Linked DNA regions of Homo sapiens: region 1 is linked to region 2. A link means that fine-mapping ties the variant in region 2 to the expression of a gene that starts in the linked region. Tissue or cell type: whole blood. Region 2 holds a variant in brackets; the other region holds the start of a gene. All regions are shown on one strand. Distances are from middle to middle.

Region 1 (8,101 bases), 230 kb before region 2:
CTGGTCACAGGGAGACCCTGCTGCCTTGGGCTTTAGCCCTGATCCAGAGGCAGGCACCTCTGGAGAGAAGCTCAGAGGACAGCCCTGCCTTGGGAGGGGAAGGACTGGGTGGGGGCTGAGGGGGTGAGACTTACCTGTGTAGTGCACCACACACGTTTGGCCCTTCTTGGGGAATGTCCTTCCTGCAGGGAGACATGAGGGCAGATGAAGGAGTAGGATATTGGAAAAACACCTGGGACATTAAGTATGATCCTGACCAAGAGCTCCAGCCTGCATTCCCCTCCATGCCATGGAGATGCCTGTGGCCCTAGTTCTGGCTCTGGGCCCTGTACGAGCCAGAATGAATCACGTCACCTCTCTGGCCTGGATTTACTTTACCCCCTCAATTTTCTCAATTCTGCTGTCTCCTGGGCTTTCCCACCACCCCACCCCCACTTTCTTTGATTGCCCCTTTTACTTCACATCATCCATTCCACAGACATTTACAGTTGGCCTCCTATGTGCCAGGCCTGGACCAGACTTCAGACATGCAGAGCAATGTATGAACTCATGAGGAAGGTAGGGAAACAGACACACAAATACCAGATTACAATGCAGATTATAATCCATCCATCAAAGATGAATAAACACAATAATTTACAAATATTTGCTGAGAGGCCAGGCATGGTGGCTCACATCTGTAATCTCAGCACTTTGGGAGGCTGAGGTGGGAGGATCACTTGAGCTCAGGAGTTCTAGATCACCCTGGGTAACATAGGGAGACCCCATCTCTAAAAAAAAAAAAAAAAAAAAAAAATCTTTTCAATTAGCTGGGTGTGGTGCCGCATACCTATAGTCCCAGCTACTGAAGAAGCTGAAGTGGAAGGATTGTTTGAGCCCAGGAGGTCAAGGCTGCAGTGAGCTGTGTTCATGCTACTGCACTCTACCCTGGGTGACAGAGCAAGACCCTGTCACAATAAACAAACAGACAAAACAAAACAAAACAAAACCACAAATATTTACTGAGTACCTATGGTGTGCCAAGCCTGTGCCTGATCACAGGGATACAGCAGTGAACACTACAAACAAGATCTCTATCCCTGTTCTTTTAGAGTTTACTTTTTTTTTTTAAGAGTAGGGGTCTCAGTGTGTCACCCAGGCTGGAGTGCAACAGCATGATCTCGGCTCTGTGCAGCCTTGACCTTTCCTGGGCTCAAGCAATCTTTCTTCCTCTGCCTTCTGAGTAGCTAGTACTGCAAGTGCATGCTGCCATGCCCAGCTAATTTTTTTAAAAAAAATTTGTAGAGACAGGGTCTTAACATGTTGTCCAGGTTGGCCTTGAACTCCTGAGCTCAAGAGATTCTCCCACCTCAACCTCCCAAAGTGCTGAGATTATAGGCATGAGCCACCAAACCCGCCCTGGAGTTTATATTCTAATGGACAGAGACAATACTTAAATATACAAAATGATTATGGATTATGATGAATACTCTAAAGAAAATACACACAATGATGTATTAAAGGGAGATGCAGTGGGACAGGCCATTTCAGACAGAGTGGTCCAGGATGGCCTCTTGGAGAAGGTGCCCCCTGGAGCTGGGACTTGAAGGATGAGCAAAATACTGGGAAATAGCACTTGGGAAAGGAGTAACAAGTGCACAGAATCAACACATTTGCAGTGAGCAAGGAGGCTAGGTGCTGGAAAGAAGGGAGGGAGGAGAGAGGTGGGAAGGACATGGATCATGCAGGGCTTGAAGAGCCGGATTTAATACTAAGTGCAATAGGAAACCACTGGAGGGTTTTAAGCCAGAGAATGACATAATCTGAATTAAGATTTTATAACATCACTCTGGCTGCTATGTGTAGGATGGACGGTTAGGCGTCTGTTGCAATAATCCAGACAAGAAATCAATGATAGCTTGATTTAAGGTGGTGGCAGCAGAGAAGAGAGTGAAAGATTGGAGACATATTTTCGAAGCGGAGCTGACAGGTCATGCAATCAGACTGGAAATGGGGTCCAGGATGAGGACAAAGGAGACAACAAGAACGATGCTTGGGTTTTCTGTTTGGGCAACTGGATGAATAGTGCAACTATTTCCTGAGATAGGGAAGACGGGAGGAACAGATTTGTGCGGGTGGCAATCTTGAGATGCCTATTAGACATCTGAGTTTATATTGCAAGTAGGCAGATGAAGAGTCTGCACTGGAGGTATAAATTTGGCTGGAATTTAAAGCTACGGGGCTGGATACAAAGCCTAAGGAAGCCTAACCACAGAGCCGATATTTAGAGGACTCTATGGGATCCTGGAGGAGGGAGCAGCTAACTGACCACAGAAGTCAAGGAAAACATCATAGAGGAGAGAATGGTGAAGCCAGGTCTTGAAAGACAAGTAAGAGTTTGCCAGAGGAAGTGAAAAAACACCATCTGGGAAGAGGGAACAACATGTAACATGTTCAAAGGCCCTCAGTCCAGCAATAGCGGGAACCCTGTCTGTTTCAACTGTGTCACCTTAGGGCCTAGCACACACGTTCAATAAATATTTGCTGAACGAGTGGTGTGTTTGACAACTTGCAGGCAGCTTGGGAAAGCTGGAGGAAAAAGTTAGTGGTGGGCTTAGGACAGGTGGTGAGAGATGAAGCTCTAGTGTGGAAGATGAGAATAGACCATAGCACCAAAGGCCCCTCCTGGGGGAGAGGGAAGAATCATTAAAACATCTTCTGCCTGAGGGAGGGGCATAGTCAAACATGCATTTTTTTTCTTTTTTTTTTTTGAGATAGAGTCTTGCTCTGTCACCCAGGCTGGAGTGCAATGGCACAATCTCAGCTCACTGCAACCTCTGGCTCCCAGGGTCAAGTGATTCTCCTGCCCCAGCCTCCCGAGTAGCTGGGATTACAGGTGCGTACCACCATGCCCAGCTAATTTTTGTATTTTTAGTAGAGACGGGGTTTCAACATGTTGGTCAGGCTGGTCTCGAACTCCTGACCTTGTGATCCGCCCGCCTCAGCCTCCCAAAGTGCTGGGATTACAGGCGTGAGCCACTGCATTTTAAGAAGAGTCTTCAGGCTATGATATAGAAAGGGAGTGAATATGAGATTGGGGACGAGATTGAAAGCAGGGAGGAGAGACTGAAGATGGGGAGATTAGCTCAGGGGCTGCTGAGGGATGAAAAGGCCTCAGGGAGATGCTTTCTGGGACCCAGCAGCAATGTTTCCTGCGTGGGCAAAGAAGCCTGTACTCCAGGGGATATCTGAAGTAGTGGCTGGGATTGGACAAGGAAGATGGCCTGGAGCCAAGAAGTTATCCAATTTCCTGGGGAGGGGAGCTGTTCATATTAATAATATCTGATATGAAGTTTGCCCATCAAACCCTGCAGACAATGGGGGCTTTGGTATTAATTAAATTTCAAGAAATAAAGAAATGGCTATTCCTTGCACACCCAGACCCAGTAATACAAGGACTTGGGAAAGTGAGACACGGAAGGGGGATAAAGAGGATCACTTAGGAGAGAAGGTGGGAAGCGAGAGTTCTGTTTTGGACTTGCTGACCAGGGAGCACCCTGGGACGTCCAGGGAGAGGTTCGGCCGTAGGTCGCAGGGCTGGGCTTAGAAGCTTCAATGTGGAGGCCATGGGAGTGGACAGGGTGGCCAGGGAGTCTGAAAGCGGCGGCAGGATAAAGCGAGATCCGGAAGCGGGCAAGGGAGCGCTTCCCCCTTCCCCAGCCTGGGTCTGTCCCCACAGCCGCTCACAGCCCGGCCCGCAGGGAAGCGACCGAGGGGAGGCCCGGCGGGGGACGCGCTAGGAGGAGGTCCCCGAGCAGCGGGTATCCGAGAGCAGGTCCTGCTTTCCAGAGCTCGCCGAGTAGGGCAGGGAAAGCGAAGCCGAAACCCAGGCTGGGGTATCAGCAGCAGCGGATAACCGAACGACTGCAGCCGCGACAGGAGAAGCCCGGGGCGGTGGCGGGCCGCAGACCCCCGCCTCCGGGCCGCAGACCCCCGCCTCCGAGCTGCCGCCTACATTCCCCTAGGTGAGCGCGGAAGAGGATGGCGGAGGATGGTCTCCTAGACCCCCAAGAATCCCGTCCGGCGTCTCCGCCTGCCTTCCCCATCCAGCCCCCCGACCCTTCAGCACCCTCCACGCCACCTCCGAATCAGACCCCCGCCCTCCGGGCTCCGCCCCGGGACCCCTCCCCTCCCCTGGCTCCGGAGGGAGCCCGGTACCGTCTCCGGGGGAGATGGTCTCGATCTCCACGCCCATAGCGGTCCCACAGGCCCCGCCTCTGGGGGGTCCCTGCTGCTGCCCGACCCCGGCTCGGCTCCGGCCCCAGCCCCGCCGTCGCTCCGGCTCGCCTCCTCGCCGCCACTGCAGAGCCGGAGGAGGTGCGGCTGGAGTCGGGACCTGCGCGGGGAGGGGCCACTGGCAAGGGGGCGGCGGGGCGGAGCCGCGCGGAAAGGTGGGGTCGGCCGGGGCGGGGCCCGGGGGAAGGGACCCCGCCCGGCTGTTAGCGAGCCTGGCCCCGCCTGACGACATTAACCCACTGACCAGGGAGCGTGGTAAGCACAACCACATCCTCCATCCATCCATTCATTCGCGCATCCGTCCAATAGACATTTATTTAGCATCTAATCTGTAGTAAGCTCTGGGAAGTCAACCCAGTCCTACAGACTTGTGGGGGGTGGGGGGCAGAAGGGGCAAAGGCCGGCGATTAAACCATCATTTTATTTTTATTTTTATTTTAGACAGAGGATCTTGCTCTGTCGCCCAGGCTGGAGTCCAGTGGCGCGATCATAGCTCACAGCAACCTCGAACTCTTAGGCTCAAGCGATCCTTCTTCCTCAGCCTCCACCCAAGTAGCTGGGACTAGAGGCGCGAGCAACCACGCCCAGCTAATCTTTTATTTTTTATTTTTATTTTTTGTAGAAACGGGGTCTCGCTGTGTTGCTATCTAATGAAACCATCACTTTAATTAGATGCGCTCAGTGCCGTGCAGTTCAGAGCGTTGCGGAAGCACAGAAGAGGTTCCTACCCTCGCTAGGCGTCCTGGATCTGTAGGAGCAGAGCTGGGGGAGGGAGGGAGGACACCAGTAATTGCTGACTCTCCCCCATACCCCTAAACCCCTGTTCTCCATCTCGTGTAGTTCTGCTCGACGCACATTTATTGGGTACTCAATTTTCAAGGCAAAGAAATGCGCCCTGGGGATACCAATAGAATTAAGACAGGTTGGCTGTCTTCCAGGTACTAAGTCTGAGAGGGACGGGGACACACAGTTACTGCATGGAGTGATTAGTGCTGTGGAATGAATGAATGAATATGTAAATGAATTCTACTTTGAGTTCCTCCTCCACCAAAAAATACATTCAGGAATCTAGAAAAATATTTTTTGGAGGAGGTAATATTTGTTTAAAGGGTAATTGGGACTTTTAAAATTTTTTCCCCCTCATTATTACCTGCATTGTTCCAAAAATTGATGTGAGGCCAAGTATATCAATTTTTGGAACAATGGCTCACACCTGTAATCTCAACACTGTAGGAGACCGAGGCAGGAGGATTGCTTGAGCCTAGAAGTTCAAGACCAGCCTGGGTAACATAGCGAGATCCCGTCTCTCTCTCTCTCCTTTTTTTTTTTTTTTTTTTTGAGACAGAATCTTCACTCTGTCGCCAGGATGGAGTGCAGTGGCACAATCTCGGCTCACTGCAACCTCCGCCTCCCAGGTTCAAGCGATTCTCGTGCCTCAGTCTCCCAAGTAGCTGGGATTACAGGCGTGAGACACCAGCGTTCGGCTAATTTTTAAATTTTTAGTAGAGACAGGGTTTCACCATGTTGGCCAGGCTGGTCTCGAACTCCCGACCTCAGGTTATCCGCCCGCCTCAGCCTCCCAAAGTGCTGGGATTACAGGCATGCCATCTTTATTTTTAAAAAAAGAAAAGAAAAGAAAAAGAAAAACATAAAAACTGATGTGAAGATATGATTCTCCTGAGTGGCACTGGAAGATAGGCATGGGGAGAAAAGCCTGGCAAACTGGTCCAGAATGAGCCCCAAGGGTGTTCTTCCTCCATTTCCTCATCCCCACTCTCCCGGATGCTTAGGTCCCAGATGAGGTTGTCTGCATCCCTGAAGGTGTTCTGGCTGTGTTGTTAAAGAAAGATGATTGTCGACTGTACTGTGAGGGTCAGGACCTGGAATTCCTCATAGGTCTGAAGAAGCCTAAGGGACGCACTAAATCCATAGGCTGCGGCCAGAGCAGGCACGCTTAGGGTCGGGGTAGAACAGGGATTTGTAGCTGGGACAGGCCCATGCAGCGGCTTCAGCTCAATGCACAGTATTTTGTGTACAGATAAGAACATTTTCCTGAGAGATTTTATCAGATTTTAAAGAAGGTTAAAAAGCCGTGGTGATCCTAGGGCTCCTGGACTCCTTAGACAAGAGAACCGACGAGAAGTGGGGAAAGAGCTCAAGTGCTTAAGGGAGGGAAAATGTGGCGGGCTTGCGGTCGGTGGTTTTACGGGGACTACCACTCCCAGCGATCCGTGCGGCAGAGCCAGAGCTTATTGGCCAGTGGGACGAACCCTCTGCTAATGTGCATATTCAAAAGCCAATAGACGGGGCCATCTCGGAGCGTGCCTATCCTATCAGAGGACCACCCACCTATCAGAGGACCGATATCACCGCCCACCTATCAGAGGACTGAGGGCCGGTGCTTCCGGTGGCTGCCCAGAACTTCTTATGTGCGGCGGCGTGATGTTGGGCGGCCACAGAGAGATTGGTGTTTTTGTGAGGCAGTGAGACCTAAGGTATTTCATCTCCACTGCTGCCGGGCCTGGCGGGTGTGGGGAGGCTGTAGGGGGTCAGGAGGGAAGTGGATCGGCTCTTGGTGGGTAGGGGGCGGGAAGGAGGAGATTCAGGCGTGCAGAGAGGATGAGGAGAATGGGGCGGGCCGCGTGTGAGGGGTCGCGGGATGAGGATCGAGCTAGGGGTGGGTGTAAATGAGGGATTATGACCGTGACTCGTGAATAACACTCCTGGGAATATGTCCCAAGGAAGTCATCCAAAGTCAGGAAATGCTTTAAGCCTTAAGACCTCGGTCCGAGCTTTATTTATAGCGGGTAGCGGGATAAAGTTGGGTACAGCTAGGAGCAGTTCAGTACATTATGTCACTTCACTGAGTGTATGTGAAGTGGCCTCTAAAACTAATTTATTAAACTTTTAAATAACATAGGGAAATGCTAATATATAATGTTAGATGAAAACCGTGATACAAAGTTGCACAGTATAACTGAAAAAGTTTGACAGCCAAACTATGCATAGAAGAGTCTAGAGGGATTAGTCATAATTTTCTTTGGATGAATGTTTTTTCGTTAACTCTTCTTAATTTTTTTCTTGTGTATGATTTTTGTTTCCAAATAAGTGTAAAGAACTTGAAATCATTTTATAGTGGAAATACAATAAACTTGGAAAACAAGTTGGGGGAGGGATGTACTTTTGTTTAAACCTGCTGGAAATGCCAGTTCACCTGAATCCCTTGATTCTCGTCATGAGTTGTCTTTAAAGAAGATGAAAAACAGAATTAAATGGTTATATACTGAGCACCGGCTCTTAGTTTTCTGACCACCTCTCCGGAGACCTGAACTAATACAGTGGTCTTTTCCCTCCTAAAACACCCAGGGTTCTTGATTTCATGTTCTCCAAAAAACTTATACTCTGGAGATTGTGAAACAATAGGTATACAATTAGTTTCAGGCAAAATCAGTAGCGTTGGGGAATGCCTGAAGAGCATTTAAACCTTGGTCCTCCTGGCCCTCTGATCTTATACAGTGAGGTTCTCCACTACCTTGACTTTAATGATTAACCCTATGTCAGTGATTTCCAAATCCTTACCTCTGACTGCCTAAGGTACATTGGTACCATGTAGACATCTTACATGAAGCACATGTTAATTTCAATTTGTCACATACTACACACGTTCCTCCCCTACTGCCCCCACCCCCACCTCCCCAACAGGGTCTCACTCTGTCACCCAGGCTGGAATGCAGTGGTGTGATCATAGCTTACTGTAACCTTGAACTCCTGAGCTCAAATCCTCTCAGCCTCCATAGTAACTAGGACTGCAGGTGTGGGACGCTGC
Region 2 (8,106 bases):
ACATTTAAAAATTACATTGACATTCTAATCAGAGTATAAAGCTCATAAACTTTGAAGGGAAAGTAATGTCTTTTGATTATCTTAATTTCTGCAGTTCCTAGCACCTTGTCTGGAATGCAGTCTGCACCAAATAGAAAATTATTCAGAGAATTATACTAACATTAAAAATATATATAGTAAAAATTATGAATATTGTTCAATGAATTCTTCTGTCATAAATATATTTTTCAGAAACTTTAATTGTTTAGTGACAGACTCACATAAGATACCACATGGAATACCTGATTTCTTAAATTTGGCAGACAGAGGGGAATGAATATTTTACTGAATATCTGTGAGCCAGGCACGATGCCATGATTTGTGTATTTTTTATTTCTGAATTTCATAACTGGAAATGTATTTCATATATATGTTATGTACCAAAACGTCCCAAAAAACTTACGTCACCTTTAGAAAATCATAAAAACCTCATCTTTCCTTTGGAGAGATTATCATAGCTTTTTATCTCCATTTGTGAATTACCATTTTATAGCATTATTATCTATGTTTTCTTATAGCTTTTTTTGTGTGTAAATATAAAGTATGCTTTAGTTCCAGTTGGTAGAACTAGTTGCCATGAACCAGTGGAGAAGAGCAACCAAATTTTATTTGATTATCAATAATTGGTTTTTAGCTATTTAGTCATATTTATTCTGGCTTGTTTTGACCTTTAATATTTTTCTTAGATAAATATTTCCTTGTGTATGAAATTATCACTCAAAAGATACTCAGTTATTTCCCAGATTAAACTATGACTTGTACTAAATATTTAGCTTTTTTTTTGTTTTGAGACGGAGTCTGGCTCTGTCACCAAGGCTGGAGTGCAGTGGCGCAATCTTGGCTCACTGCAAGCTCCGCCTCCTGGGTTCACACCATTCTTCTGCCTCAGCCTCCCGAGTAGCTGGGACTACGAGGCGCCTGCCACCACGCCCGGCTAATTTTTTTGTATTTTTAGTAGAGACAAGAGTTTCACCATGTTAGCCAGGATGGTCTCGATTAAATGTTTAGCTTTTAAAAGCCACTTGAGATCTCTATCTGCTAGCATAATTTAGCATCTCATTTTAGAATGCATCTGTATATTTTTTATTTTGAAAGGATATGATTTCTCTTAATCTTAATTCTCTCTCATATCCCGTACACATGTAGCATTGCTTTTTATTGAATGAATTGTCAGTTTTAATTAGGCATGTTTGAAGTATAGCAACAGCTGTTCATACTTCAGGTGGTAGTCCAGGTAAGGCTTTAAGTGTTGCATTCTCAGTAGAGATTTTAGTTCCAGTTAGTTCCCTGAGTGATAACCTAAGGCCCACAGAGAGAATAATGCTGTATGAATGAGTGTATTTTTAAGATTAGCTTTGACGGAATTTCTGACTCCATCTTAACTACACTAAGACTTCTTTGAAAAGGTGTATCCTCTTTAAAAAATAAGGGTCAGTTTGTTCCTTGTTGCTTTTATAAGAACTGGCCTTGACTCAGCTAACCTACTAATTAAACCAAATATGAAATGGACTGGTTTTGGTCAAAATTAACTCAGAGATTTTTAGTTAAATAGGTGGGATTTTATGAGAGTGCCACATCTTTTCCAGACTTGTTTTTTTTTTTTAAGCCAGTCAGTGAGTTCTTCCAAATTATATCTCATAACACTTAAGTAAATAGTCTGTAAAGGTGAAAGTGTTATATTAATTTTGTTTATAAGTTATTTTAAAAGCTGCAGTTTGTCAGTTTGCCTGTATTATTTGATAGATAACTTATTAATGTCATTTGATTTTTTAACCCAATTTTTCTTAGCTTTGGTAGGGCACGAATATTAAATGACTTTATAAGCCCCATAACCATTGTGATTTTTTTAAACAGATATAGAAACTTTAATTTTAGAGGATAGTGAAGATGAAAATGCTTTATCAATTTTTGAGACCAATTGTCACTCAGGATCACCAAAGAAACAGTCATCATCTGCTGCTATACATAAACCCTACCTTCATTTTACAATGTGAGTGATTTATATCAACTTTCTTTGTATTTAGAGTGATTTTTGATACTTTATGATTAGAATTATGGTATATTTTTACTTATGGTTATAACTGTGAGGATATTGTTTTTCTGTTGTTTGGACACAATTCTGGAAAACTTTTACTATGTATTCTTTTTCATGTGGTAATAGTTAGTTTGTTGGTTAACTACCTAGGTGTTTTTTTCTCCAAGTAGAAGAATCTTTCCTGCTACTTTACTTTTTTTTTTTTTTTTGGGAGGCAGAGTCTCACTCTGTCACCCAGGGTAGAGTGCAGTGGCATGATCTTGGCTCACTGCAACCTCTGCCTCCTGAGTTTAAGCTATTCTCGTACCTCAGCCTCCTGAGTAGTTGGGATTACAGGTGTGCGCTACCACGCCCAGCTAATTTTTGCATTTTTAGTAGAGATGGGGTTTCACTATGTTGTCCAGGCTGGTCTCGAATCTCAGGTGCTCTTCCCGCTTTGGACTCCCGAAGTGCTGGGATTATAGGCGTATGCCACTGTACCTGGCTAAGTTTACTTTTTTTTAAAGTAATGGTGTAAATTTTTTCCCCCATGGAGGCAGAGGAAAGCTTACCCTTAGAAAGTCAACTCATGAGCCCCAACTTTATTGCTTTTTCTTTAAACTAAAATGGGCAGAAATGAAATATTTGCCATGATCTGGAATACTTTAATTTGTAATAAACTTTAGATGATCATTTAGGTCTCTAAGGCTGCTAAAGAGATTTCGATTTAGAAATTGTTCAGTAATTAAATAACTTTTTGATTTTCTAGAAACATTATACTTGCATAATTTGGATTTTATGATTTTTCAATTTACATTTACCCTTTTATTATCTGTGTTAAAGCAAGTTTTGCTGTGCACTATAATAGGTAAACACTTTTAGTGCAAATGTAATTTTAAATTAAGAGGCCAAATAGTTTTCAAATACTAACAGCATCTTTACTTGCATTTACATAATTAGCCCCATAGTTGAAGGACCATAAAGCTTCAGTCAGGTAGATCTAATAGCACTTCTATTAGAAGAGGCCGGATTGTGTGTACTTTTAATATTTTGAACAAATTTAAGTCTCCAACTTGAAGTTTTCCCATGTAGATTTTGGTGAAATGTTGATTTGATTATTTGCATTGATAACCCTTTCTTGTTTTTCATTTTTAAAAATGAGCCTAAATTACTTTCATCTCCTCTTTTTTTCTTCATATGTTCTTTAATAGCAAACTCTTTGTAAGTTTTTTTCTTCTTCTCCAGATCCTTTCTTTTATGCTCTTGGGGAAGTTTTTTTATAGGCTATTCCAGCATTTTACAGATTTGTTTTATTGATAGTTATGGGAAAGCCAATTTTTTTTTTTTTTTTTTTTTTTTTGCTTTTCACCTGGCTAGCCTGTGCGTCTGTGTCTCTCTGTCTCTCTCTCTTTCTCTCTCTCTCTCTCCCCCCTCCCTCTCTTCTTCCCTCCCTCCCTCCGTCTCCCTCTCTTCTTCCCTCCCTCCCTCCCTCTCTTCTTCCCTCCCTCCCTCTCCCTCTCTTCTTCCCTCCCTCCGTCTCTCCCTCTCCCTCTCTTCTTCCCTCCCTCCTTCTCTCTCTCTGTGTGTGTGTGTGTGTGT[A/GTA]ATGTGTGTGTGTGTGTGTGTGTGTGTAATGTGTGTGTGTGTGTGTTTATGTGTGTTTGACAGTTATAGTTATTTGGATTTGTATTATGTAGTAGCAGAAACTAAGTAAGTATCAAAAGACGTGTTTAATTTTATAAGATAATTGTCGTCAATAAAGGAATACAGAAATAGATTTTGATATTAGAAAGTATCATGTACAGTGTTAAGTTTGACTTTTTATTGAGGACATTTCCTGCCACTGATTTAATGTGAAACATTGGTATGGCTCATTTTGTTTTAGCTTTTCTGAAAGAATTGGTTTAATTTTAGCTTCCTTTACATAAGCTTTTCTAGTTCATTCATTTGACTTTGATTAAATAATGAGACAGCTATATGCTAGAATAAGCATTTTTTAGATGTTTTAATAATAATTATTCACTTATTTCTTTATTCACCTACCCATTTGTCCAATTTTTCTTTGTTTACCCTATGCCAGGCATTGTATGAGATGCTGAAAACATAAGCATGAATAAGATATAACATAGTTCTTACTTTGGAGAAGGTCTCATGGTTGGGGGTGACAAACATTTCAATATGGCGAAAGTGCTGTGAAAGCAGAACTAATTCTGCTGGAAGTCTGGGAAGGTTTCACAGGAGAAGTAGTGATATTTGCTGTCCTTTTCATTATGAAGGGATGGGAGTTTGCATCTGAGTGCTTTTTACAAATTAGATACTTGCTTGGTATGTAAAGATCTGTGCTTCATATTCAGTAATATATATAGGCCCCTTAACAATCATATTGCATTTGTGGTATCTTCATTTTATAGATGAGGAAAGTGAAGCACACAGAAGTTAAATAAATTGCCCATGATCCTGTTGCTAGCAGGTGGCAGAGCCAGACTCTGTGCTGTTTCCTAAGACCATATTTTTCCAAGTTATTTCTGAGCTTAATAAGTAGCTAGGGAATTGCATTGCTTCTTTAGGTAAGTTAAGCCATATATTTCACACTCTCCAAGAAGCATACACTTTAGAATTAAGGCCTTTAGTATGGGCAACATATAGTCTTTTTTGTTTGGTTGGTTTAGTTTTCTGTTTGAGCAAGATACGTTAGCATTACAGATCAATGCAGAAGAAAAGGTGCTCGGCCAGAATAAAGCATAACTTTAGTGCTGGTTTTCAGTCACACTAGCCTGGGTATTGCTGGTGAATTTCTGGGAATAGTCTCCTGAAACAATGTTGAAACCTTTTCTTTTTTACATTTAATATAAAGGAGAAGTCAAGATAGTTAAGGTTTACCAATCTGGTAGAGAAGCTTTATGATGGAAAATAAATTTTCTTTCTTACTTTATATTACCATAAGGGTGACTAGAAACAGAATTTTCTGAGGTTTTTCAAATGAAAATAGCTTTGTTTTTTCTGATTAGAAAGATGATATACACTGTAGAAAATTCAAGTAATAAAGAAGAGCATAAAGAAGAAAGTAAAAATTAAAGCCCCAGCACCTGCAGGTAATATTTGTTAAAGTTTTGGTGACCACACTTCCATGTCCTCTCTATGCATGTATAATGTATAGACCCATACATTATCTGGATTATATCCTCCTATAAGTTGTTAATATAACTTACTTTTTCATCCACTATGTTGGGAATATTATTTCATGTCAGTGTATGTTTAATATGACTGTTTTAAGATAGCTGCATATTATCTTACACTTTGGATATTCCATAATTTATAGACCCTTATTGGTAAAATTTGAAGTTTTCAAGTTTCTTCTTTTATGAACAATAGACTTGTTTCTAAGTATACATCTTTACACCACTATCTGATTCAAAGCATAAGGTAAATTTTAAGAACTGCAATTGCTGTGTCAAAGAGTGTATACATTTAACATGTTGACACAGATTGTTAAATTGCTTTCCAGAAGGCTTGTACTAGTTTACATTTCTCATACTAATGTATGAGAGTAGTATTTTTCTTATACCATTGTCAATTCTGAGCACTGTCTTTTAAAATCTTTACAAACCAGATAGATGAATATAATATCTTTTTGTTTAGTTGACTTGTTCATTTGTTCTTTCATATATTCATTCACTCATTCAAATGTTTTGTAAAAGTGCCCATCATGTTCCAGACATTGTCCTGGGTAGTTGGGGTAGGTCAGTGAACAAAATAGGGTAAGATCCTGGCCCTCATTTAACTTATATTTTTAAACAGAGGAGACATTCAGTAAAATAATAAATGTAATAGCTTGCTAGATAGATAAACTGTTAGAAGATAAGTACTATGGGGAAAAAATGTAGAAGATAGTAAGAGGCTGGGGAATCCCTAGGAGTGGAGTGAGTTATTGAATACTTTTGGGCATACATTTTGGCATATTTAGATCTATCACATATAATTTCAGAAAAGTTGTGCTTTTCTTCCACTAGTTGTGAGGATATCAATTTTGCCATCCTCTCATTGATAATGGGCATTACAATTAATTTTTGGTTTATTAATCTAACAGATAAAAGATGTCCATCATTATTTTCATTTATATTTTCTCATTTTTTAAAAATCTCTGTGTTAATGACTACCATTTTGTTCTCAAGCCTAGATTGCTCTTGAGCTTCAGACCCTGACCAGTGGCCCATCTCCCCTTTGTTGTACCATGGATCTTTCCGTACATAGCTGGACTGTATCATACGCCCCTTCTCTTCCTGTGACTCCTATGAGCCATCATTCATTCAGTTGTCTCAGCTAGAATTTGACATCATTCTCAACTTCTTTCCTTTTATTTCTTTCTTTGTCTAGTCAATGACCAAGTCTTTCTGATTTTTCTTACTAAGTAAGTCTCATCGCAGGCTATTCCTTCTTTCTCTAACACTATTCTTGTTGAACTGTCATTCACATGTCATGCCTGGGTTACTATAGCAGATGCCTGATTATCTTTCCTCTCATTTGCCTTCTTTCAAAACCCTTTCCCATACTGACAATGCTGAGATAGAGTTATCTTCCCTAAACATGTATATGATTATCTTGTTCCTCTAAAGTATCTTAATGCTTCCCCATTGTCTTCAGTACACATTCCAAACTTTTTTTTTTTTTTTTTGGAGACGGATTTCATTCTTTTTGCCCAGGCTGGAGTGCAATGGTGTGATCTCAGCTCACTGCAACCTCCACCTCCCAGGTTCAAGTGATTCTCCTGCCTCAGCCTCCCAAGTTGCTGGGATTACAGGTGCCTGCCACCACGCCTGGCTAATTTTTTTTGTATTTTTAGTAGAGTCAGGGTTTCACCATGTTGGCCAGGATGGTCTCGATCTCTTGACCTCATGATCTGCCCGCCTTGGCCTCCCAAAGTGCTGGGATTACAGGTGTGAGACACTGCGCCAGGCCACATTCCAAACTTTTAACGTGGCTTACAAAACCCTTTGTAGCCCTTCATAGTCTAACTTACCTTCTTTTTTCTCTCCCCACCCTAGTACCTTTACTGTACCCTCCACAACTTGTCCCCAGTACTTCAAAACAAACAAACAAAACCAAAACTGGCTGTATGAACTGTATTAGTTACCCCAAAGAGCCATGTTCTTTTTAACTGTTGGTCCTTTGCACATCCTGTTTGCAGTCTTGGAATTCATCTCTTGTACCTCCAATCTTTTGGGTTTCTGCCTTGGTAACACTTTTCCAGGAATGCCTTCTATGAGTCTCTAATTGGTATCTTCCATAGCACTGTGTACTTAAACAGTACCCCTTATTAATCACATTGAACTATGGTAATTTGTATATTAACTTTTTTACTAAATACCACTCAGTTATGAGCTCTATGATAACACTGGTATTGTTTGATACTTAGGGCTAAGGCATTCAGCATAGGAGGCATTCTATAGTTATATAATTAAATAAACATTTTAAAAAGTTTCCTATTTCTATTTTCTCTTTGAATTGTCTTGTTTTACGTCCTTTGCCCATGGAGGTTTTTGAAAACTATGCATATAAACTCTTTATACATTAAGAACCATTCCTGTTTATGACAAATTCTTTTTATTAAATTTTCTTTTTATGTTTTTTCAATAATTTTGTTTCTGAGATAGGATGTCTATGTCGCCCAGGGTAGTCTTGAACTCCTGAGCTCAAGTGAGCCTCCCAACTCAGCCTCCCAAGTAGCTGGGATTACAGGCATGTTCGACCGTGCCCTGCTCTGTAGCAAATTCTTTATGCCATTTGGTTGTTTGCTATTTGGTTCAGATTATAATTTTTGGGTTACAGAGGTTTTTAGATTATTATGAATTAAAAATAAATGAATCTTTTAATTTAAATTTTGTGTTAGAATTCATTTTGTTTATGCTGTGAAATGACCTGAATCCTCCGTTTTTAAACATTTATTTTATTATCCATTTCTCTTCCTTTTATTTTATTTTATTTTTGAGACAAGGTCTCATTCTGTCACCCAGGCTGGGATGCAGTGGCACCATCATGGCTCACTGCAGCCTTGACCTCCT

Evidence for each region. PIP is the estimated chance that this variant, and not a neighbour inherited with it, causes the effect.
Region 1: FKBP1B starts here. The variant in region 2 is fine-mapped to the expression of FKBP1B in whole blood (INTERVAL, PIP above 0.99).

Annotation. Positions count from the first base shown.
Region 1 is chr2:24,045,983-24,054,083 of GRCh38, reverse strand. FKBP1B (FKBP prolyl isomerase 1B) reads right to left here and starts at 4,343. Exons shown (of 4, transcript NM_004116.5): 1 at 4,198-4,343; 2 at 135-182. The coding sequence starts at 4,234. WDCP (WD repeat and coiled coil containing) reads left to right here and starts at 6,693. Exons shown (of 4, transcript NM_025203.3): 1 at 6,693-6,770. RefSeq lists silencers at 54-245, 4,182-4,481.
Region 2 is chr2:23,813,670-23,821,775 of GRCh38, reverse strand. It overlaps ATAD2B (ATPase family AAA domain containing 2B), which reads left to right. Exons shown (of 28, transcript NM_017552.4): 17 at 1,894-2,029. Among named protein-coding and RNA genes, the nearest start is that of ATAD2B, 110 kb to the left of the region's middle. The variant A/GTA (reference allele first, on the strand shown) is at 3,653.